Homo sapiens: one gene and its partners. The protein of the gene in region 4 purifies or fractionates together with the protein of the main gene of each other region. This does not show direct contact. Each region holds a gene or a part of one and is shown on either strand. Other genes may lie near its edges.

Region 1 (3,505 bases), on a different chromosome or scaffold from region 4:
TTTTGCTAAAAATAGTGGCCAGACCAGAGCTCTGGAGCCACCTGTCCCACCTCAAATGGGTCTGGGGGTCAGGAGGCAGGGTTTTATCTCTGTCTACCATCTCCCTCGAACCCACACTGCAACAGGAACTGTGAGAGTCTTTGTAAGTAAACTGCCCTGTCTAGGTCAGTACCCACCTGAGCTTTGGACGCACACAGCTTTTAGTACCCACCTGAGCTTTGGACACACACAGCTTCTAGTGATTTCTGGGGCCCCACCGTAAAGTGAGCATGCTTTCTGAACTCGCTTCTCTGTGACTGATGTTAGGCTGGGCCCAGAGGCACAGCCGGGGCCTGCCTAGCACTCACATGCTGGACAGGTCTGGGAGAGGCAGAGTGCCCCACCTGCCACTAGGCTGGGTGCCCACAGCCCGCATGCAGCAGCTTGCTGCACCCCAAGTCCAGGTCGGGCTCAGCTCTGGCTCACAGACTGGAGACAATGCAGATGCCAGAGCAAAGGGCCAGGAAGGGTCAAAACATTTTATTCTCTTTTTTTTTTCTTTTTTAATAAAGTTAAACAGTAAAACAAAAATTCACAAGCTGCCTCCCTGTCCACCCCCGCCTCCCTCCCCTGCCCTCGGTCTTCGGCATTGGTTCCCTTTGCTCCACCCCACTCACAGAGACACAGGGCATCCAACTGAGAAAACGAAACTGCTCTAAGCACACGGAGACGTGATGAAGGGAGGAGGTGAACTGTTTCCACATTCAAGATTAAACTGAGTGAATCTGCATTTTCTGGGTTCTGGGTGGTTGCCCTTCATTAGCCAAATTGAAAAAAGAAATTCCCTGGACCAGATGCTGAAAGAGAAAAGAGGGGTTGGTAGTTGGCTATGGATTTTCTAAGGAAGATCACTTTGCTCTGATTATGGAAAAGTCTTCAAGGGCTGCTTCAAACTCAAACACAGAGAGAAACTCTATGGGTATCAAACAGCTCAGGCTGTTTTTGGGTGCAAGAGGGAGCACGTGACTGTATTATACATGGGTAGCTTCTGACCTCAGCATTATCTATATAGTACCTTTGCTCTTGCAGAGAAGCCTTGGTACTAGGCAGTTAGAGATGCCTCCCTGACCCTGCAGAGATGCGGTGGCTAAAGGTCCCAAGGCAAGGGGTGCCTGGGAACCTTCCTGTCTTCATCCTTAGCAACAGCCGAGTGGATAGATGCCCTGCTAGATGAGAATTCAGCTGCCCCCGCTCATGGGCCCCTCTGACTCCCAAAGAGCTGCCTAAGAGGCAATGAGTGTGTTGGCTTGTGATCTGGGAACTCCCAAGAACAGCAGGCCCACCTACCTTCAAAGCTGAAGCCGCCAGGACCGCCAAAGAATGCCTTGAAGATATTGTTTGGATCAAAATCTGTAGAGCAGGGCAAGTAACATGGAAGGGAAGAAAAGGTGAAAAATTAGAAATGTTCGAAGAGAACTGATGACACTGAGAACAGATCTCCAAAGCTTTCCTGGAGAGTCTCACTCCCCTCCTTTCCCAACACTTCAGACTGCAAGTGAGCAAACCTGCCCCATCCCGTGCAAAACATGCTACCTGATCCCACTCCTAGGACATGTTCCCTTCTCCTTCCAACTGCTGCCCCAAAGGAAGCTTTCTCTGCTTCAGCTTGCTTCATTGGGCTGTTTTCTCAACAAATGGAATGCCATTTGCACTTACACAAGACTTTCCCCATACTCTGTCTCCCTATAATGCTGGAGCGGCTACTAAAAAGGATAAAATGTATCACTTAAATGTTACCAAAAATAAATATAAGAGCAAGATCTAGGATTTACTGTATTTGATTCCATGTCTTTTACTCCGTAGACTCTAGGCTAGAAAAAAAGCTATGGTTTATTAGCTGGGCGTGGTGGCTCACACCTATAATCCCAGTGCTTTGGGAGTCTAAGGTGGGAGGATCACTTGAGCCCAGGAGTTCAAGGCTGCAGTAAGCTATGATCACAACACTGCACCCCAGCCTGGGTGACAGCAAGACCCTGTCTTAATAACAACAACAAACCAACAAAAACACCTACTAGGTGCAAAGTACTAGGTACTTTGCATACATTACATTACTTAATCCTAGTAATGTTTTGTCAGGGTAAGTATCATTCCCAATTAATACTCAACAAAACATATGTAGGTGGTTCAAGTAACTTGCCCACGATCACATGGCAGCGAAAGCAGCAGAACTGGAAAATCCAACTCCTGCCTGACTGGCTCTGTGCACTTTTGCAAGGCCACAGCATGTCTGGTGGCCCCATCCCTGACTGACTGCCCAAGCTTCACAGAAGGACTGACCCCCACCAGGTGATCCCACAGCCACCTCGTGCCCAGAGTGAGTTTCTCTGCTTGCATCTGTGTGTCTTCCTGGGCTCCTGGCTTAGTGAATGACCCCGAGTCAGCTATGCCTGTCACTTTCCCCAACACATCTGAATAGCAACCAACTCCTGCTGAGTCTACCACTAACTAACTCCCTGACTGTGCCCTCCAATCCTTTCCTACCTTTTGTGTCTTCCTTCCATCTCCATTCTCCTTACTCCCTCCAACCCCAACCTCCTCACCCCTATCACAAATATATTTCCAGAGCCAAAATCTGGTCCACAGTGCCCCTACTTAAAACTTCACGGCTGGCCGTGGTGGCTCAGGCCTGTAATCCCAGCACTTTGGGAGGCCAAGGTGGGTGGATCACGAGGTCAGGAGATCGAGATCATCCTGGCTAACAAAGTGAAACCCCGTCTCTACTAAAAAAAATAAAAATAAAAATAAAATAAAATAAAATTAGCCGGGCGTGGTGGCAGGTGCCTGTAGTCCCAGCTACTTGGGAGGCTAAGGCAGGAGAATGGCGTGAACCCGGGAGGCGGAGCTTGCAGTGAGCAGAGATCGCGCCACTGCACTCCAGCCTGGGCGACAGAGTGAGACTCCGTCTCAAAACAAAACAAAACCTCTTCACTAGTTTTTGACTGCTTATAGATCTTCTTAACTGCTAGGCAGAGGAACATGTTTATTGTGGTGAACCTAGGTTTATTAAACACAAATACCCCCACACTGAACTGGAGAGGACTCAGCATTATCTATATAGTACCATCATTCTTATTTTAAATTCCGGCTGGGTGCGGTGGCTCACGCCTGTCATCCCAACACTTTGGGAGGCCAAGATGGGCGGATCACACAAAGTCAGGAGTTTGAGACCAGCCTGGCCAACATGGTGAAACCCCGTCTCTACTAAAAATATAAAAATTAGCCGGGTGTGGCTGCAGGTGCCTGTAATCCCAGCTACTCAGGAGGCTGAGGCAGGAGAATTTCTTGAACCTGGGAGGTGGAGGTTGCCGTGAGCTGAGACTGCACCACTGCACACCAGCCTGGGTGACAGAGTAAGACCATGTCTCAAAAACATAACAACAAAAAAAAATTAAATAAATAAATAAGTTGCAATGGAAGGCCAGGCACAGTGGCTCACGCCTGTAATCCCAGCACTTTGGGAGGCCAA
Region 2 (3,526 bases), on a different chromosome or scaffold from region 4:
CTCTATGGAACACTATTGTTTCTTACCCTGCTCTAATACCTACCTGCTACTGCCCAATGCTTAGTTCAAGCATCCTCTACTCCCGGAATCTAAGGGGTTAAGTTGGGTGCTCTTTCTCTTACAAAAGACCTCCATGCTTACCTCTGTTCTTACACTATACAGTATTATAATGGCTAGTTTGCTTCTATGTTTCTGTGAGTTCCTTGTGCATTCCTTGAGCTGGGGTCTGTGTTCATGGTCCCTATAAGGCTCACCATCTAGCCAGAATGTGTGGCATATAGTAAATGCTCAGTAAACATTTGTTATCTAAAACAAATATATTTCTTGTCCTAATACTTTCCAGAGAAATAGTTGCTCCTATCCAGTTCTTTCTAGTCCTGAATTTCTCCCTCTTCTCCCATTCCAATCCCTGCATCTTGAATATATTAATAGCAGCTTCAAAATAACCATGTCATTCCAGGGCAATGTGGAATATATCCTTTACTTCTCTTTTACCTTTTCTTTTCTTCTTCTTTTTTTTTTTTTTTTGTAACATATCTAATAATGCATGTCCTGAAGGAATTTTCCTTTTTTTCTTTTCTTTTCTTTTTCTTTTTCTTTCTTTCTTTCTTCTTTTTTTTTTTTTTTTTTGAGACAGTTTTGCTCTTGTTGCCCAGGCTGGAGTGCAATGGCACGATCTCGGCTCACTGCAACCTCCGCCTGCTGAGTTCAAGTGATTCTCCTGCCTCAGCTTCCCGAGTAGCTGGGATTACAGGCATGTGCCACCACGCTCGCCTAATTTTGTATTTTTAGTAGAGACAAGATTTCTCCATGTTGGTGAGGCTGGTCTTGAACTCCTGACCTCAGGTGATCTGCCCGCCTTGGCCTCCCAAAATGTTGAGATTACAGGTGTGAGCCACCGTGCCTGACCTCTGAAGGAATTTTCTAATGAGGAAAAAAAATTTATAACTATTGTTATTCTTTTGGAGGTTAAAGTTTTACCTTAGTGGTATTATCCTTTACCATCTGGTAAAATTTGTGCTTAGATTTTTGAGTTTTGAAGTGTTTTCATTTTATTTTATTTGGTCCATTTTAGGCATTGTGTGGCTGCTCAATTAATGTACCAACACTGGATGGAAGAAACATACCTATGTCAGTAAATGATATTGTGAAACCCGGAATGAGGAGAAGAATTATTGGATATGGGCTGCCATTTCCAAAAAATCCTGACCAACGTGGTGACCTTCTAATAGAATTTGAGGTGTCCTTCCCAGATACTATATCTTCTTCATCCAAAGAAGTACTTAGGAAACATCTTCCTGCCTCATAGAATGAAGAACTTTGTTACACATATTTTGATAAGGCACTGAAAATATAAAAGGACTGGTAGTTTACTGATGTAGATGTGAATTCTGTATAAAGATGTGTAAATTCTTTTGAGGGTTCATTAAATTGCATGAATAGAGACGGGTCAAATAAATAGGCAAAAGGGATTTTTACAGTTAGAGATAAAAGAGAAAACCATTCACTGTATTTTATTTCATTTCTCCTGATTCAGATATTTTTAGTAATTTGCTTATATGTAAAAGTTGTTTTTGTGGAGTCAGTGGATATATTTCTAATGAAGTGCTAGACTATCCAATTACTTAATTTCTTATACCTTTAGATAATCAGTATGAAAAGTTCCCATTTATAATGGAAATGAAAATTCTTAACTAAACTATACATGTAATATGTATTTCTAGAAGAGAATAAAAACCCAAGTCAGTTATTAGATTTAAATCACCTTCTGAAATGCTGCTATAGGGCTGGTATCTGTAAAAGAATATCCTGATGCATCTGTTTCACCATTTTGATTTTTAAAGTATGCTGTAGCATTTCTTAATAACATCGTTGTGATGTTCTTAAGGCAGATCTTTCTTCATAAAAAGGAAAGTAATGGCAATTTCTCTCCTGTGGAAATCCCAATTGCTTGAATTACTGATATTTTAGAATAGACTTTTTAAAATGCCATATGTAATTTTATGCAAGTTGACTATATATCTTGTACTTAATAAATTATAGGCTCATTTTGTTCTCTGCTAGTTTAAAGTAATTCGTTTAATAATAGATGTGTTTTTAGAGGAAATGCTGTTACTTGGAATTAATTTTCCAGTTATACAGTCTTCTATAACTTACTAATAATATTCTATATGTACTTTATGTAATTTCCCTAAAAAGAATGAACTACCACTACACTATGGTGTTAAACCAAAATATAGGGAAAATAAACACTAACTGCTGCTTATGGATAATGTTGCAACTACTTGTTATGCATATAAATATTTTACTTTTTCACATGTATAGATTGCATTTCTTAGGTGTTTTAATTTTTTAAATATATTTATGTTTTAAAAATTTAGTTTTGTTTTCTGTTTTATAACTATAGTGAGAATGATGTTTTGAAGCAAAATTTTTGGTTATAAAATAGTTTTCAGGATTATATATATATATACTGGATCCTATCGCCTTTTAGTAGAATATGAAATATTCTTTTAGAAATCCAATATAAATAGGTTATAATAGCCATATTCTTTATTACTTTATTGAGATATAATTTACATGCCATAAAGTTTACCCTTAAAATATATAATTCAGTGGTTTTTAGTGATATTTACAAAGTGGTACAATCATCATCACTTTCTAATTCCAGAATATTTTCATCACCCCAAAAAGAAATCCTAAATCCATTAGCAGTTACTTCCCATTCTTCCCTTCCTCCAGCCCCTGAAAACACTACCATCTACTTTTCATCTGTATGGATTTGTCTGTTCTGGACATTTCACATAAATAGACTCAAACAATATATGGCTTTTTTTTTTTTTGGTCTGGCCTCTTTCATTTAGCTTAATGTTTTCAAGGTTCATCTATGTTGTATCACGTATCAGTACTTTATTTTTTGTGTGGCACGTCATATGGATATACCACAATTTGTTTATCTTTTCATTAATTATGGGCATTTGGCTTATTTCTACTTTTTTGGCTATTATAAATAATGCTGCTGTGAACATTTGTGTGCAAGTTTTTGTGTTTCAATTCTCATGGGTATATACCTAAAAGTGGAATTTCTGGGAGTAACCATATATTTGAGTTGCAAATGGAAAATGCTTGAAAAAAATGCCACAGAATTCAGCTAATCGTATTTATTACTCTAATTCATAAATGATTCCTCTATAACTGTCTCTCTGAATGACAGTTAAAACTCCCTACAGAAGTGTGAACATTACAGAAATTTTCTCACAAGTCTAAAGATCTAGATCTGAAAAGCATCAGTCAACGTGGTGAATGATAGTGGTTTCTGTTTTAAACCCATCATTATTTATTGCAATTTTCTTGATTAAGCATTTTCTCCCAGGTAAAATAAATGATTTATAGATAGATATATAATAATCTTTGGATTAAAAAGTTTTTTTAAGCAGAGAATTATTATTCTAGTAGTAAATAAATTTACATAACTACACAAAACCAGTATACCAGTATCTCTCTTATCTTAAAGGATATTGACAAT
Region 3 (3,358 bases), on a different chromosome or scaffold from region 4:
AGGTATAGACCAAGAGAAATGGCGGCATCTGCACACACAAAAACTTGTACAGGAATGTTCACAGCAGCAATAACAGCCAAAAAGTGGGAACAATCTTAATGTCTACCAACTGACGAACAGGTAAGGAAAATGTGGTCTATCCATGCAATGGAATATTATTCAGCCTTAAAAAGGTATGAAGCACTGATCTATGCTACAACATGGATGAACCTTGAAGATACTATGCTAAGTGAAAGAAGCCAGGCACAGAGGATCACATACTATGTGATGCCATAGCTATGACATGTCCAGAGTAGGCAAACAGAGAGAGACACAGAGTAGACTGGTGATTGCTAGGAGCAGCGGGAGGGAAGCATGGGGAATGGCTGCTAAGGGTATGGGTTTTTTTTTTTTTTGCAGAGTGGGGCAGGTAATGAACACACTCAAGAATTTATCGTGGTGCTGACTGCATAATTAAAAAGCCAATGAATTGCACTTTTTTTTTTTTTTTTTGAGATGGGAGTTTTGCTCTTGTTGCCCAGCCTGGAGTGCAATGGTGTGATCTCAGCTCACTGCAACCTCCGCCTCCTAGGTTCAAGCGATTCTCCTGCCTCAGCCTCCCAAGTAGGTGAGATTACCGGCATGCGCCACCACGTCCAGCTAATTTTTGTATTTTTAGTAGAGACGGGGGTTTCACCTTGTTGGCCAGGCTGGTCTTGAACTCCTGACCTCAGGTGATCCACTCACCTTGGCCTCCCAAAGTGCTGGGATTACAGGCATGAGCCACCACGCCCAGCCGAATTGTACACTTTAAATGGGTGAATTGTATGGTATATAAATCATATAAATTAAACTCAATAGAGCTGTTAAAAAAATATCATCAAGCTTGCTTTTTCATCTACTGCTTCCACAAAGTTAAACTCCAGGGCACTGATTTTATCTCCGACTTTGAATGGAAGATCCAGAGGCAGTGTAGTTATTTCAAGGTTAAATGAGATGATGTACACAGGAAACAGAACAGACTGAGTGGCAGTGCCAGCCTCAGGGGCGAGCTGATGAAAGTCAGGCTCTCTTAGTTCAAGTAAGTGCCTCTGACAGGGCCCACCTTTGCTTTGGAAAACAGTCTGGCAGTTCCCCAAAAGGTTAAACATAGTTACCATATGACCTGGTAATTCTACTTCTAGGTATAGACCAAGAGGTATGGAGGCCAAGGCGAGCAGATTACTTGAGGTCAGGAGTTCGAGACCAGCCTGGCCAGCGGTTCCAGTGAGGCCCATGTGAGGCAGTCACTCAGGGCAGTAGCCCCCTCACTGGCCTCCCCACTTCCACTCACACCCACTATGGCCCACTCCCCACACCTCACATTCCTGCCCAGGGTCCCCCAGCGGTCCCATCTTGCTGAGAACCTGCCGGCACTCCTCTTTGCCTGCACGGGCTCACTCAGCCACACAGGTGTCCTCGCGGCTGCTCCACCTCACAGGGCTGGCCCCTGCCTCAGGACTGCAATACCCGGCTGTTTCTTCTGCCTGGAATGCTCACACCCCAAACCTTGGCATGGCTCTCCGCTTCACATATTTTACATTTCTGCACCAGCATCACCTCCCCAGAGACCACGGTGTCTAAAAGCGCTCCCCCCACCATCATTCTCTGCCATCTTCGTAGCTTGCTTTAGTTTTCTTTTTTTTTTGAGATGAAGTTTCACTCTTGTTGCCCAGGCTGGAGTGCAATGCGCGATCTCAACTCACCGCAACCTCCTCCTCTTGGGTTCAAGCGATTCTCCTGCCTCAGTCTGCCGAGTAGCTGGGATTACAGGCATGCGCCACCATGCCCAGCTAATTTTGTATTTTTAGTAGAGATGGGGTTTCTCCATGTTGGTCAGGCTGGTCTTCGAACTCCCAACCTCAGGTGATCCGCCTGCCTCAGCCTCCCAAAGTGCTGGGATTACAGCGTGAGCCACCGCACCCAGCCGCTTGCTTTAGTTTTCTTTGTCACACTTAACATTACCTGGAATTCCTTCTGGCTTACGGGTTTGTTTGGGTGTGTCTCCCACTAGAATGTAAGGGCAGGACTGGCTCCAGTGGGCCTCATTATCTCCAGGGTCTGGCATAAATGGGCACTCAGCTATTTGCTGAATCAATAAACGTGTGTGTCATTGACAGCTATCAACCTGGCCTGCCCTGCCCATCCTTCGGGCCTCTCCAGTGTTCCTGGTGAACCGTTAATTACAGGACCAGTCCTCATAGACATGGGAAGGGGAAAGCACATGACCTCATCTTAGCCAATCAGAACCTTCCCTATGACTGTCACACAGAGAAGCCTAATTCAGGGGGAGGGAAAGAGTCAACAGGTTGAAGGCCAGGCAAGAGCTGGAGAATCGTGGCACACAGCAGGAAACCCTGGAGCTGGCCCTACTTTGGGACTTTCTGGCCAAATGAACCAATACACTCCACGGTGAGCTTAAGTGAGTTTAGGTTGGTTTTCTGCCACCCGGACTCTGACAACTAGAGGATACTCTTGCCTGCTGGGTGCCTGGCCCACTGAGATGCTCAGTTAACAGGTGAGACTCCATAAGGAAAAGTGACCACCCACAGAAGGATGGCCAGCCCAACAGCCCCTCCCACTGCTGGCAATTGCATTGTAGTTTTCCTCTGGGGAACTGAGCTCCCCCATTGGTGCAGGTTCGGGTGGGTGTATGATCTGGGTGTGGCCAGTGAGGGGCCTCTGAGCAATGAGAGGCAATGGGCATCAGCTTTGGGACTTCTTTTCCCCCATGAGGATTTCTTTTGAAATTATTGGGCAAGGGCAGGCGCGATGGCTCACTCCTGTAATCCCAGCACTTTGGGAGGCCGAGGCAAGAGGATCACCTGAGGTCAGGATTTCAAGACCAGCCTGGCCAACATGGTGAAACCTCATCTCTACTAAAAATACAAAAATTAGCCGGGCATGGTGGTGGGCGCCTGTAATCCCAGCTACTCAGGAGGCTGAGGCAGGAGAATCGCTTGAACCTGGGAGGCAGAGGTTGCAGGGAGCCAAGATCTCACCACTGCACTCCAGCCTCGGGGACAGAGCAAGACCCTGTCTCCAAAAAGAAAAGAAAAGGAAGAAAGGAAAGAAAGGAAAAAAGAAGGGAAAAAAGAACGAAGGAAGGAAGGAGAGGAGAGGAGAAGAGAAAAGAGAAGAGAAGCTCTCTGTCTACTGTGGTGGCTGAGCTGCTGGGGCCCACTGCTGCCGCACCATGGGGAGAGCTACCCCAATATGAAGACTACACACTCAACGGTACAGTGAGGGGAAGGAGAGAGAGTTCCTAGGACATTGTCAGAGGCTCCAAGCCCCATCCAGGCATGCCACAAGCCAGACCCATCCTGGGGCTTTTCCTTTT
Region 4 (3,500 bases):
CTGCCATGAATCACCTGGAAAAAAATCAAAGACAACAATGTTAAACACTTCCATGCATTCAGAAGAAAATATTAACTTAGAGTTTTAACAATTTTTGCTATTATCTCAATTCTACTGACTAAGTCCAAAATGTACAAGTCCTTTGGGAGAAGACAATCTAAAGGTTTGCAGACTAATATTTCTGGCTTCCCTATCTAAGGAAAAGAATCTATTAAAGATACATCAATAGTTCATGCCTATAACCCCAGCACTTTGGGAGGCCAAGGCAGGAAGATCGCTTGAGCCCAGGAGTTGGAGACCAGCCTAGGCAAGATGGCAAATCCCTGTCTCTACAAAATAATAACAATAAAAAAAAAAGTAGCTGGGCATGGTGGCACATTGCCAGCAGCCCCAGCTTCTTCAGAGGCTGAGGTGGGAGATTCCCTTCAGCCCACGAGTTTGAGGCTACAGTGAGCTATGATAGCACCACTGCACTCCAGCCTGGGCAACAGAGCACGACCCTATCTCTTAAAAATATATATGTCGGCTGGGCGCGGTGGCTCACACCTGTAATCCCAGCACTTTGGGAGGCCGAAGTGGGTGGATCACCTGAGGTCAGGAGTTCAAGACCAGCCTGATCAATACGATGAAACTCCAACTCTACTAAAAATACAAAAAGTAGCCAGGTGTGGTGGCATGCACCTATAGTCCCAGCTACTCAGGAGGCCAAGACAGGAGAATCGCTTGAACTCGGGAGACGGAGGTTGCAGTGAGCCAAGATCATGCCACTACATGCCAGCCTGGGAGACAGCAAGACCCCATTTCCAAAAAAAAAAAAAAAAAATATATATATATATATATATATATATATCAAACAATGGTAAATTGTTATCTTACAAATAATATATGCCTATTCCATTGATTTCATATTGTTCATCAAATATACTTTGAACAGGTTCCAAAATTAGCAACATAAAAATGATTTCACAGCCAAATACTAAATAATGAGAAAAGGGACAAAAATGAAACTAAAAAGTATACCTGAAAACTCCTAGAAATTTACCTAAAGGAAATATTCAAATAAATAGGCAAGTTGTACATATAAGGTTTTTCTATCTAGGCTTATTATTTAAAAATCAGAAACTATTCAAAAGTCCAATAACAAATTATTAAAACATGATACAGTCCTACAATAAATTATCAATTTAAAATGATGTCAACAGTTTATTTTTACAAAGAATATTTATCAGATATTGTATGAAAAAAAAAACAAGTGACTGCAGTATACTGAGTACGTCTTCGAAAACTAAATACGCATATATTTGTTAGATGAGAAAAAGTCTGGAGAAATATATACCAAAATAATGTCCCTGGGTAGTAGGTTTTCAGGAGAGGCTTTCTTTTCATTTACCTCATTACCCTTACTTTGAAAAACAATAATGATGTAATGCTTATATATTTAAAAATACAAATATATAATTTTAAAGGAAATTAAACCAAATCTTTCCATATCAGAGAAATGAAGGTAAAATAGAGAACTATAATTAGATATCTTAAATACAGCGGAATAAACTAATTCAGTCTATTTTTTTGTTTTCGGAGTCTTGCTCTGTCATCCAGGCTGGAGTGCAGTGGCACAATCTCGGCTCACTACAACCTCCGCCTCCCGGGTTCAAGCGATTCTTGTGCCTCAGCCTCCCGAGTAGCTGGGACTACAGGCACCTGCTACACGCCCAGCTAATTTTTGTATTTTTAGTGAAGACAGGTTTCGCCATGTTGGCTAGGCTGGTCTAAAACTCCTGACCTCAGATGATCCGTCTGACTCGGCCTTCCAAAGTGGTGGGGTTACAGGCGTGAGCCACTGCGCCTGGCCACTAATTCAGTCTACTGGGTTATTTATGAAGCAAATTAATTTTCTCCTTTTCACATACCCCCACCCCAGACCATCTATCTTCTTAATTCTCATCCTTACACAGCTCCCGGCTTCCTCCCCAATGACCCATCCTCCATCCCTGAATTCTCTCCCAAACCTTTCCACTGTGCCCTGTGGAACCTTACTTCAATGTAAACAAAATCCCCTACATGCTCAGGTTGGTCACAGAAAGTTCCCTCCTCGACCTGATTTAAATGAGACATAGTTTTCCTAAAAGTCACAGCTTCCAGGCCTCCTGCCTCCAACCTCTAGCTCTACTCCCACGCGTGTTAGAAAAAAAAAAAACAAAACAAAAAAAAAACTTTTAGAGCTTACAGCCCTACTTTCCAAGTCTTCTTTCTCTTAGCTTTCTATTGTTCTTTTTCTATAACTTGGCCTTTTGCTCAGATAAAAATCCATCTTCTGTCACCCCTTGTCACTTCCATACACATCTTCTGATCAATCACTCTCAAACATTTGATGAAGACTTCAACACCTGGGCCAGGCATGGTGGCTCACACCTGTAATCCCAGCACTTTGGGAGGCTGAGGCAGGCGGATCACTTGAGATCAGGAGTTCAAGACCAGCCTGGGCAACATGGTAAAACCCTGTCTCTACTAAAAATACAAAAATTAAAGGCCGGGCGTGGTGGCTCATGCCTGTAATCCCAACACTTTGGGAGGCCGAGATGGGTGGATCACCTGAAGGTCAGGAGTTTGAGACCAGCCTGGCCAACATGGTGAAACCCCATCTCTACTAAAAATATAAAAATTAACCAGGCATGGTGGCGGGCATCTGTAATCCCAGCTACTCGGGAGGCTGAGGCAGGAGAATCACTTGAACCCGGGAGGCGGAGGTTGCAGTGAGCTGAGATTGCACCACTGCACTCCAGCCTGGGCGACAAGAGTGAAACTCCGTCTCAAAATAAATAAAATAAAATACAAAACAAATACAAAAATTAGCCGCACATGGTAGCGGGCGCCTGTAGTCCTAGCTACTCCGGAGGCTGAGACAGGAGAAATCTCCTGAACCCAGCAGGTGGAGGTCACAGTGAGCCAAGACTGCACCACTGCACTCCAGCCTGGGCGACAGAGCGAGGTTCCATTTTCAAAAAAAAAAAAAAAAAAAAAAGCCGGGCTCAGTGGCTCACGCCCGTAATTCCAACACTTTGGGAGGCTGAGGAGGGTGTATCACCTGAGGTCAGGAGTTCAAGACCAGCCTGGCCAACATGGAGAAACCTCCTCTCTACTAAAAATACCAAAATTAGCTGGGTGTGGTGGCTGGCACATGTAATCCCAGCTACTTGGGAGGCTGAGGCAGGAGAATCGCTGGAACCTGGGAGACGGAGGCTGCAGTGAGCCAAGATCGCACCACTGCACTCCAGCCTGGGCAACAGAGCAAGACTCCATCTCAAAAAAAAAAAAAAAAAAAGACTTCAACACCTGGCTAAGTCATCTTTCACACCTCTTCAATGTTCACATAAGATCAGCCATCCAAAAACTGTAAGTCAAAACTCCCTGACCATCTCAACTCCTACAACCTCCCCACTTATTCCATTGCAAACCCTACTCCCACCCCACTTGGACCTGTTCCTGATCCAAAACTGGTC
Region 5 (3,500 bases), on a different chromosome or scaffold from region 4:
ATAAAGAAAATATGGTATATATACCATGGAATACTACTGAGTCATAAAAAAGAATGAAATCATGCCTTTTGAAGCAACATGTATGGAACTGGAGGCCATTATCCTAAGTGAAATAACTCAGAATGTCAAATACTGCAAATTTTCATTTCTAAGTGGGAGTTAAACAATGGGTACACGTGGACATATAGAGTGGAATAATAAACAGATATTGAAAACTCCAAAAGGTGGGAGGTTGGGAAATGGGTGAGGGTTGGAAAATAACCTATTGGGTACAATGTTCACTATTTGGATGATAGTGACATTAAAAGCCCAGATATCTGAGCTTCACAATATACCCATGTAACAAAACTGCACTCGTACCCCCTGAATCTATAAGAAATAAAAATAAAGAACTGATTAATTTTATGTCAGACAAATGTCATGCCCCTAGTTGCTTTTGCACTGAAGAACTAGGCTCAATAAAACCACATACTATTCCACAAATTAACTCAAAATAAATCAACTTCCCTAGGAAAATAAAAAAATAGAACAACTGTGTCTTCACTACTAAACTCCAGAGAGAACAGACCTGCTACCATTTTATACATTTAATATATTTCAAAAGAAAAAAACTGTACAAAATATGTTCTCTAATTATTGTGGAATTAAATTGGAAACAAAAAATAATACAAATCCCTAAATGTTTATAAATTAAATACCTAAATGTAACATCTATAAACCTTTAGAAGTTAAGCCACACATATCTTTTTTGTGTGTTTGGAGACAGAAAATCCTTCTGTCACCCAGGCTGGAGTGCAGTGGCACAATCTTGGATCACTGCAACCTCTGCCTCCCAGGTTCAAGCGATTCTCTTGCCTCAGCCACCAAGTAGCTGGGATTACAGGCGCTCACCACCACACCCGGTTAATTTTTTGTATTTTTAGTAGAGATGGGGTTTCGCCATGTTAGCCAGGCTGGTCTCGAACTCCTGAGCTCAGGCAATCCACCTGCCTAAGCCTCCCAAAGTGTTAGGATTACAGGTGTGAGCCACCACGCCCAGCCAAGCAACACATTTCTAATAAACCTATAGGTCAAACAATAAATCAAAAGGGCAAAGATAACATTTTTCCAAAACATTTTTAAACAGCTTTATTGAGATATAATTCACGGCTAGGCGCGGTGGCACATGCCTGTAATCCCAGCACTTTGGGAGGCTGAGGCGGACAGATCACTTGAGGTCAGGAGTTCAAGACCATCCTGGCCAACATGGTGAAACCCCGTCTCTACAAAAAATACAAAACTCAGCCAGGTATGGTGGCACACACCTATAGTCCCAGGTACTTGGGAGGCTGAGGCACGAGAATCACTTGAACTTGGGAGGTGGAGGTTGCAGTGAGCCGAGATTGCACCATTGCACTCCAGCCTAGGTGACAGACAGAGACCCTATCTTTAAAAAAAAAAAAAAAAAAAAAAAGGATATAATTCATAATTCATATACCATATAATTCATCCATTTAGGGTATATAATTTCAACTATTTTTCACATAAAGATATGTGCAACCATCAATAGTTAATTTTAGAACATTGTGTTATGTCAAAAAGAAAACCCATGCCCTTTAGCTATCACCTCCCCACCTCCCTTTTCGCCATGCTCCCCAACTCCAAGCAACCACTGAACCCTAAGCAACTACTTTCTGTGTCTACAGATTTCCCTATTCTGGAATTTCATGTGAATGGAATCATATAAATGGACTTTTTGTGACTAGCTTATTTCATTTAGCATAATGTTTTCAAAGTTCATTGAGGTTGTAACATGTAATCAGGATTTCAATCCTTTTCATGGCCAAATAATATTCCCTTGTATGGATATGTCCAGTTAAAAAAATCCATTTGTCAGCTGATAGACATTTGGGATGTTCCCATTTTTTTACTATTATGAATAATGCTGCTATAAACAAACATACAAGTATTTGTGAACAAGAGCAAGTTCACTTTGCTCTTGGCTGTCAACAAGCAGAAATTGCTGGATCATATGGTAACTCTATGGTTAAATGAGGAAAAAAGAGATACGTATTTTTAACTGAATAAAAATGAAAACACAACTTATCAACATCTGTGGCATGCAGGTAAAGCAGTGCTTAGTGGGAAATTTATATTTTTAAATGTTTATATTGAAAACAAAGATCCAAAGTCAATCTAAACTTCTACCTTTAAGAGCTAGACAAAGATAAGCAAATTAAACTCAAAGTTTAAAGAGCAGAAATCAATGAACTAGAAAATGGGCAAACAACAGAGAATTGCCAGGGAAACCAGACAATGGTTGTTGTAAAAATCAACAAAAATTTGAAATAGATTATAGAAATAAACATAAATATTTAAAAATATCAAAGCTGAATTTAGGGAAATAAAATACATTCTTTAAGCAAGAAGAGGCAAGGGTTTCTCAGGACACAGAAAGCATAACCATAAAAGAAGAAAATAATCAACAAATTATACACCTAATGCAAAGAAAAGCTTCTGTTCATCAAAAGGTATAATTAAAAATATGAATATGCAAAATCACAGGAAAATATACTCATAAATATTTGTATATTCTAGAAATTCCTGTATTCTAGATACGAATCTGACAAAAGATTTGTATCTAGAATATATAAAGAACCCCAACTCACTATTAAGAAGGCAAACAATCCAATTTTGAAGACTGGCAAAAGACTTGAACAGAGATTTCACAAAGATAAACAAATAGCCCATAAACACAAGAAAGTGCCCAACATCATTGTTTATCAAGAAAATGCACATAATAAACTAAAATGAGACACAAGAATAGCTAAAATGAAAAAGAGTGGCAATATCAAATGTTAGCAAGGGTGAAGAGTAACTAGAACTTTCATACCTTACCTGTAGGAATGAAACTAATACGACCAACTTTGGATATTTAGTAGGTTCTCATAAAGTTAAATATAAACCTACTTCTGAACCAACAATTCCACTTTTCAATGTCCATCCAAGAGAAATGAAAACATATGACCATGAAAAGACCTGTGCAAAGTATTCAAAGCAGCTTTATTCATAAAAGCTATAAATTGTAAACAACCCAACTATCTATCAACAAGGGAATGGATCAACAAATTGTGCTATATTCACACAATACTACTTACCAATAAGAAGGAACAATGTACTAAACAATATAGATAAATCTCACAGATACTATGGCAATCACAAATCATACTGGACTCTTTCTTGGTTACTTGATAAATTTGGCCTTTCATTGAGATTTAATCTTTCAAATGTATATGATACTTTCCATTCTGGTTGACTTAAAGCCAAGGTTCTACTTTAACCCTTTCCTCTCCTACTCATACTTACAGAACACACACAGAAGAACATACACAAAACTTAGAACTGTTAGCTTGCTTTACACTTGCAGAATATCAATATATCCACGTTTTCCACAACTCTAACTTCTCTCACTATGTTAAATTTGGCTAATTTCCAGGCAACTGTATATTCTCATTTTAAAA
Region 6 (3,500 bases), on a different chromosome or scaffold from region 4:
TCAGGAAGTTGTACATTACATTGTGGTTTGCCCTCTAGTTGCCATCCTCCCCTGTGTGCCTCCTCTAGACCAAGCCAGTGGCATTTGCTGTGCGGACAAATGTTGGCTACAATCCGTCTCCAGGGGATGAGGTGCCTGTGCAGGGAGTGGCCATCACCTTCGAGCCCAAAGACTTCCTGCACATCAAGGAGGTGGGTATCTGGAGGGAGGGCAGGGAAGTGGGTGCCAGGAGACAGGCAGCCAGAGTGCTAGTGGACAAAAGGCTTCTGAGCCAAGCAGAGCCAGGCTGAATCTGCTGTGTGACCTTAGACAAATCTCTCCACCTCTCTGAGCCTCTTAATTTTCTACTGGAAAAATGAGGTGGTAATGCTTAGGTCAGAAGGTTGTTGGGAGGGTTTGTTAGGGGGCCTGAACTGGCATGGCGGTGTGCCAGGGACATGTAGGTATCCGCATTTACTCCAGCGGCCTTTGTAGAGTAGGGTGGGCACATGGGGAGAAGGACTCTCAGAATTGCATTGGGCCGGTGGCAGGGTGGTCCATGGCCAGAAAGCATGCTGGTCCTGGAGTTGTCCTGAGAATTGGCAGCTCCACTCAGAGGCTGGAGCCAGGGCTGGGGATTTTTGAGGGTGCCACCCCTGGGCTGGGAGGTGAGTCTGGGCGTTTCCCCTAGAGAGTGACTGCTAGCTTGCCCCTGCAGTTTCCCTCTTGCTCTTTCCACCCACCTGCCATATTCTTTGCAGAAATACAATAATGACTGGTGGATCGGGCGGCTGGTGAAGGAGGGCTGTGAGGTTGGCTTCATTCCCAGCCCCGTCAAACTGGACAGCCTTCGCCTGCTGCAGGAACAGAAGCTGCGCCAGAACCGCCTCGGCTCCAGGTGTCTGGGTGGGGCAGGGGAAGGGGATGCTGCCAACCCCAGGAGAGGCCATACAGCCTGGACTAGGCCTCAATGGTTGTCCCTGGCCCTGAGGGCACAGAGCTGCCTGTGGCATCACCAGTGGGGCTGGAGCACCTCCGGGGGTGCCGCATGTGAGAGGATGAGAGCCCCCCACGCCCACCTCTTTGCTCACAAGCTCGGTTTGCCTCTGCCCACACAGCAAATCAGGCGATAACTCCAGTTCCAGTCTGGGAGATGTGGTGACTGGCACCCGCCGCCCCACACCCCCTGCCAGTGGTAAGAGCCATCGCCATGCAGGGGTTTGGGAAGAAGCTCCTGGGTGGGGTGGTCTCCCCACTCCCTGAATCCTCCTTTCCCTGCAGTAGGAAACACCCCAATCCTGAGTCCCCCAAGCACATGCAGTGGTTCCCCCTCCATGAAGAGTAGGCTACCCCTCAAGCTGGGCCTGTCATGTCTCTCCTCTCCCTTTTCTTTGGTAGCTCCATCTCTCTGCCTGATTCCCCTGCCCTGCCCCCATTCATTTCTCCCAGCCCTGTTCCATTCACCTCTTCTTCTTTCTTTTTTCCCCATCCCCATCCCTGCGTTCTGTACTTGTGTCTCCACGTTCATCTCACTCCTTCTCCCCACCTCGCCTCCCTCCTCCCTCTCTCCTGACTCTCCGGTCCAGGTAATGAAATGACTAACTTAGCCTTTGAACTAGACCCCCTAGAGTTAGAGGAGGAAGAGGCTGAGCTTGGTGAGCAGAGTGGCTCTGCCAAGACTAGTGTTAGCAGTGTCACCACCCCGCCACCCCATGGCAAACGCATCCCCTTCTTTAAGAAGGTAATTCTCGCTGTGTTCTTGCAAGAGGTGGGGGAGTCAGGGCCAGCACTTTGGTGGAGGGAAGGGGGCTGTAATGGATTCAGATGTGGTACCAACCTGTTCTGTGGGCATCAGGGCTTCCTGCTGAGGTGGAGGGAAGGGTAGCATGGGCACATCCCCCTCCACACACAACTCCACCCTGGCCCGATCTCCAGGAAGGAGATCTTGCCCTTGGAAGGTTGCCCCCACACCTGGGGCAGCAGGGTTTGGTGGTCATGAACCCTGACCTCTCCCCTCACTCCCAGGGGCCTGCTCTGGTGTTGGTGTCTACCTTGGCATGTGAAGCAGGACATGGGATGGCATTCCTTCTTTGCCCTTTTTTGACTCTCTGGGTGGGCACATAGTGGGGGGGGGCTGCTGGCTGCAAAGCAAGACAGTTAAGGGAACCCCTAAAATGGGCATGTTGGCATGCACTGGGGGCAGGAGATGGGCAACAAGATAGGGGCTGTCACCCTCTCCAGCTCTTTTCCAAGACCCAGAAGAGGGTAGGATATGTCTGAATATTCCCACATCCACTGGACTGACTGTCAGTCCTGCTCCCAGCCCTGATCCAGGGCCACCTCTGGCTCCCCCTTGGCGTGGGGTCCCGTTCCCCGTCTCTGGCTCTGTCTGTCACTAACACGCATGCCCTGTTATCTCTCCTCGTCTGCCCGGCTCTCCCTCCCTCTCTTGTCCTGGCTCCTGCCTTGCCCTCTGCCCCTGCCTGGGTCCCCTTCCCTCTCTCCTCCCCCTTCCCTCTCTTGGCAATCTCTGGACCCAGCCAAACAGAAGCAGAAGTCGGTGAGTATCACAGCTTTCTGTGTCCTCCTCCCCACTCCCTGGGATGAGCTAGGGGGACCTTCTAACACCCATTCCCACATCTGTCCCCCATTTCCCCCACCCTTCCTGGTTCTCCCTGGCCATCCCTCCCCACCCCCACCCTGATCCCTACATCTGGGCTCTGGGACCAGGGTGGGGGAAGGCTGCATGGGGGAGCCTGGAGTCTGGGGGAGAGGATCTAATGTCATCTCCACTCTGGGGTTTCCCCTCCCTGCTTCCCCCCCCAGACAGAGCATGTGCCCCCCTATGACGTGGTGCCTTCCATGAGGCCCATCATCCTGGTGGGACCGTCGCTCAAGGGCTACGAGGTAGGACTTCCTAGAGGGGAGTGGATGCAGAGGGGCCTTAGAAAGATCTTCAGACCCCAGAGAGATCCCCTAGAAGGGCCCGATCCCAAGGCATCCTCCCAGGAGGGCTACAGACTTTCAGAGACAACCCCCAGGGGGCCCAATCCACAGAAAGACCCACTCAGAGGAGCCCCGTCCCCCAAAGAAACCCTCAGAAGAGCCCTCCCAGAGATGCCACTTACAGGGACCTTGGAACCAGAGACCCCAGTGGAGGCCCCTCAGACTCAGACCCCCGCCCGCCGTAAAGGCCTGTCCAGAAGAAAGTGGAACGTGAGGGTACAAATACCCAGCGACTCAGAGTCTGAGCGGCTTTAAATGCCTGCCTTCTCCTCCCTCCCTCCCCACAAACCCCCACCCCCAGGTTACAGACATGATGCAGAAAGCTTTATTTGACTTCTTGAAGCATCGGTTTGATGGCAGGTAAGATCCTGGGAGCTGCTCCTCGCACCTGCCGTTGCTCTCTGCTGCTGGGGATGGGCAGGATGCCTCGAATCACAATCCTGGGACTCGGACTGAGGAACAGAAGGCGGGCCTGGAACTGGGGAGTGGGCAGGGCATTCCAGCCCACCCTGACC
Region 7 (3,500 bases), on a different chromosome or scaffold from region 4:
CAGGTTTTTCAGTATGAAAAAGAAGTTCTCTGTTTCTCAAAATCATACTGCATATGAGTAGTCATAAATTGTAATCCGCACAGAACCTCTAACATTATTTAAAGGTGAAAACAGCTCATCCGTTGGAAAGAAACTGAAGATTAATGTGAATACTGACTCAATAAAAGAGGTAACTTCAGAGAAATATTTTTTCTTCTTTATAAAAAGACAAAAAGAAAGTTTAACAATAAGGAAAAAAGAGTTATCTAAACACAATATTTAAAGGCATTTGCATATAAAATATAATATACATATATTTTTAAAGTTATTCATACACAATGAACATTTAACAAATAATTTTTTTGGGTTTAGTTTTTAGATACCATATCTATTACTGCTATTTTTAAAATCTATATATATACACGTTTTTCCTAAAGCCTTATAGATTTAATGCACTTTAAAAATTTTAGGAATGTGCCCAGCATAATATTTAAGCATTTTTGTGACACTGATCATTATGGGTTTCTATTTGTAAATATCTCAGTTGAAGGTGGTCTGGAACGGATACGCCAAACTTACAGGTTGCCCATCTTCTCCTGGGTCCCCTTTGTCTCCTGGGCCACCAGGGGGGCCAGCTGGTCCTCGATCTCCCACACGCCCATGAGAGCCAGGGTCCCCACGAAGACCTGGAGGTCCCTCCTTCCCGGGTTCCCCTAGGGGTCCCGCAGGTCCTGGAGCTCCCTAGTATAACAAAGAAAGAAACACCAAGGAGGGCAAAATGGAAGGCAAGTAAGAGTGATTGACATAACGCTGTCTGCCTCAGATGCAGATGTCCAAGCCTCGCAGGTTCATTTTACCTGTTAGATAATCAGTCATTCTATAGGATTTAAACAAAACAAAACAAAAGAAAACACAGCTGTAGATTCATTCCCCAGGGGGAAAACTAAATATCATTTGCAGTCAATTCCCTTTGAATAATTTTTAAAGAGTGGTGCAACTAACTTGAATTTTCAAACTTATTTAAAGCTCCACTCCAATGATGAATATATAATACTTTATTCTGAGATAATTATTTATTCTTATGATTTGATCTTATAATGAATGACATTTATTAAAGAAAGTTTCATAGTTGCATCTTAACTGAAGAGAATGATTATTAGCACATAATACTGTAAGTATTCAGTATTTAAACGGAATAATAATAAAACATTGGGGCTAAAAAGAACTTGCAAATTAGCTCCTCCAAGAAATACTAGATTATTAAGGATGATTTGCTTTGCTGAAATACCAGCATGCATTATTGGAATAAGAGTTGTTAAATAAGAAAACATACCATTAAGAAATTAAATAAAATAATAAATTTAACTCAAATGTATACGTGTGTGTGTAATTATTTCATTATCAGTGACTTGTCTCACTAAGTTGACTTACAGCAGGGCCTGGAGGTCCAACTCTGCCCGCAGAACCAGGAAATCCTGTAGCACCCTAGAACCAGAATATCATATAAGCAATTTTTAAGGTAATATAAATTAGTTACATGTATTTTCCTGGGATTTTTTTTCACAGGAAGACTGAAGCCTTTAGATTTCCTTTCATGTTGTAAGCAATATTTTTTTTTCTTCGTACGAATCCCATATTTTGGGGAATTAATCTAGATTAACTGGTAGGAAGGGCACTATTTTCCTTTTTCCATGCAGGTAGTACTAGAATCACATTGATATTTTATACAATCAAATTAAATAAAGTGCTTTCACATTGTTTATTTACTCTTTTATATAGGTAGTATGTTACTTACATTACAGGTGAGGCACCTGGGTCTCCAAGATTACAAACTTGATTTTAACCCAAATCTCCATCTGAGTTAAGTGCCCTTTGCACTATAGTACAGTTGATACAGGTAATAATTTGTTATTTCAGTCTCAGATGAAAATTATCTTTTACATGACCAGGAAGCACTAGGTAACTAGAATTAGCTGTGCATACTTTGCAGAGCATCAAATAAACTTACAGGCGGACCTTGGGTTCCTCGACCACCTTTTAGTCCAGGAACACCATTAGGACCCTGAATAGAAACAAACAAAAGAGCACTATAGTGAAGCAAAAGAGGCTGAATGTACACTCCAAACATGGGGCACTTGACTCAAGTTATGCCTTTTTCTTGTTAACTTACATGAGGGCCAGGGGATCCTGCTAAACCTTGTGGTCCAGGAGAACCAGCATCTCCCTTCTGTCCTGGCTCTCCAGGTTCACCTTTTACTCCAGGCTGTCCGTCAGGACCCTATAAAAAATTATACAAACAAGCAATTGATTATAAGACTTATAGACAAATTACTTTAGAGTAATTATTACTAATGTATCAATTAATCATATATTGTGAAACAGTGCTTTATAATCAGTATTAAAGCATACTAAAGGAAAAAAAGTACTCTGATGAGATCTTTCAAAACAGCCTAAAAAATAAGCTATCCCACTGCATTTTTATTTTAACAAATAATTATAGAAGCTCAACTAGCACAAACAAGTTTTGTGCCAGTCTATAAAAAAATGTATTGAAAATGAGAATATTGTCTAGAAAACTGTAAATTTTCCAGAATACGACTTCAAAACATATGACAATGATCATTAAACTTATTATAACAAGATAAGTGTTTATTTGTAAATTAGGGATATTTGAAAATTATACCTGGGGTCCGGCAAAACCAACAGCTCCAGTTGGCCCATTTTCACCTCGAGAACCCTAGGAGGAGACAAAGATTACTGTAGCTTTCACACATTATCCTAAACAGGAACAGTATTTTAAAATATGATCATATAAATCTGATAGTTAGACATGTAAATATAGAAAAATTACACATATTGCTTAAGGAAGGTCCTTAAGGATTATATAAAGATATAGGTCATAGAACAAAATTCCCAAGGTCAGAAGTCTCAAAGGAGCCTCCAAATTAGTTAGTAAACAAGCTGCCTAACTACACTTAATAGATTGTATAGCAGATAATTTTTAAGTTTAATTAGAAAAGCAAAAGCTAAAAACCAGGAAGTTATACATAACCTAAAACCAATAAGCATTGTTTTATATAAATATAAAAACAAAATGATTAATTGTTTTATTGCTCAATCTCACACTAAAGAACACCAAAATACTGTCACTTACAGGATTGCCCCGGGAGCCAGGAGGGCCAACTAAACCTCGAGGACCAGGTTCACCCTAGAAAGCAGATTTTAGATGGTTACTGTCCAAAACAGTAGCTAAACATAATTTTAGGACATTGGTCACTGTGTAGGAGGAGATAGTGGAAAAGAACTCTGAAATGATCTTGCTCAGATACCATATGTTATAAAATGAAAAGATTTATGAAAGAGCCTGCTATTCAGGACTCATAATTTTGAGTGTACAAATTAACAACTTGTGACTTACCTTTTCTCCAGTAGGACCTGCCGGACCTGGAGGGCCCAAAGGACCTGGAAGACCCTGTCAATTAACAGAACATAGGCATATTGAGGTAAAAAATGCACAGAAA

Evidence for each region.
Region 1: the proteins of KLHL15 (region 4) and DNAJC7 purify together in Homo sapiens (co-immunoprecipitation; one large-scale study listed by IntAct). This does not show direct contact.
Region 2: the proteins of KLHL15 (region 4) and DNAJB4 purify together in Homo sapiens (co-immunoprecipitation; one large-scale study listed by IntAct). This does not show direct contact.
Region 3: the proteins of KLHL15 (region 4) and GRK6 purify together in Homo sapiens (co-immunoprecipitation; one large-scale study listed by IntAct). This does not show direct contact.
Region 5: the proteins of KLHL15 (region 4) and ZNF451 purify together in Homo sapiens (co-immunoprecipitation; one large-scale study listed by IntAct). This does not show direct contact.
Region 6: the proteins of KLHL15 (region 4) and CACNB1 purify together in Homo sapiens (co-immunoprecipitation; 3 studies listed by BioGRID and IntAct, with this or other methods). This does not show direct contact.
Region 7: the proteins of KLHL15 (region 4) and COL5A2 purify together in Homo sapiens (co-immunoprecipitation; one large-scale study listed by IntAct). This does not show direct contact.

Annotation. Positions count from the first base shown.
Region 1 is NC_000017.11:41,975,935-41,979,439, forward strand, and holds the end of DNAJC7 (dnaJ homolog subfamily C member 7), read right to left. Parts: intron 1,807-3,505; exon of another isoform or gene 1,390-1,806; coding exon 1,327-1,389; exon of another isoform or gene 837-1,326; coding exon 799-836; 3' UTR 501-798; downstream 1-500. UniProt on the Homo sapiens protein: Acts as a co-chaperone regulating the molecular chaperones HSP70 and HSP90 in folding of steroid receptors, such as the glucocorticoid receptor and the progesterone receptor.
Region 2 is NC_000001.11:78,014,939-78,018,464, forward strand, and holds the end of DNAJB4 (dnaJ homolog subfamily B member 4), read left to right. Parts: intron 1-1,075; coding exon 1,076-1,309; 3' UTR 1,310-3,026; downstream 3,027-3,526. UniProt on the Homo sapiens protein: Probable chaperone. Stimulates ATP hydrolysis and the folding of unfolded proteins mediated by HSPA1A/B (in vitro).
Region 3 is NC_000005.10:177,436,676-177,440,033, reverse strand, and holds part of GRK6 (G protein-coupled receptor kinase 6), read right to left. Parts: intron 2,146-3,358; exon of another isoform or gene 1,164-2,145; intron 121-1,163; exon of another isoform or gene 3-120; intron 1-2.
Region 4 is NC_000023.11:24,006,687-24,010,186, forward strand, and holds part of KLHL15 (kelch-like protein 15), read right to left. Parts: intron 15-3,500; 5' UTR 8-14; coding exon 1-7. UniProt on the Homo sapiens protein: Substrate-specific adapter for CUL3 E3 ubiquitin-protein ligase complex.
Region 5 is NC_000006.12:57,142,188-57,145,687, reverse strand, and holds part of ZNF451 (E3 SUMO-protein ligase ZNF451), read right to left. Parts: intron 1-3,500. UniProt on the Homo sapiens protein: E3 SUMO-protein ligase; has a preference for SUMO2 and SUMO3 and facilitates UBE2I/UBC9-mediated sumoylation of target proteins. Plays a role in protein SUMO2 modification in response to stress caused by DNA damage and by proteasome inhibitors (in vitro).
Region 6 is NC_000017.11:39,184,170-39,187,669, reverse strand, and holds part of CACNB1 (voltage-dependent L-type calcium channel subunit beta-1), read left to right. Parts: intron 1-68; coding exon 69-191; intron 192-740; coding exon 741-877; intron 878-1,097; coding exon 1,098-1,174; intron 1,175-1,565; coding exon of another isoform or gene 1,566-1,720; intron 1,721-2,519; coding exon 2,520-2,539; intron 2,540-2,805; coding exon 2,806-2,886; intron 2,887-3,286; coding exon 3,287-3,345; exon of another isoform or gene 3,346-3,437; intron 3,438-3,500. UniProt on the Homo sapiens protein: Regulatory subunit of L-type calcium channels. Regulates the activity of L-type calcium channels that contain CACNA1A as pore-forming subunit.
Region 7 is NC_000002.12:189,050,762-189,054,261, forward strand, and holds part of COL5A2 (collagen alpha-2(V) chain preproprotein), read right to left. Parts: intron 3,452-3,500; coding exon 3,398-3,451; intron 3,188-3,397; coding exon 3,134-3,187; intron 2,717-3,133; coding exon 2,663-2,716; intron 2,258-2,662; coding exon 2,150-2,257; intron 2,042-2,149; coding exon 1,988-2,041; intron 1,465-1,987; coding exon 1,411-1,464; intron 721-1,410; coding exon 559-720; intron 1-558. UniProt on the Homo sapiens protein: Type V collagen is a member of group I collagen (fibrillar forming collagen). It is a minor connective tissue component of nearly ubiquitous distribution. Type V collagen binds to DNA, heparan sulfate, thrombospondin, heparin, and insulin.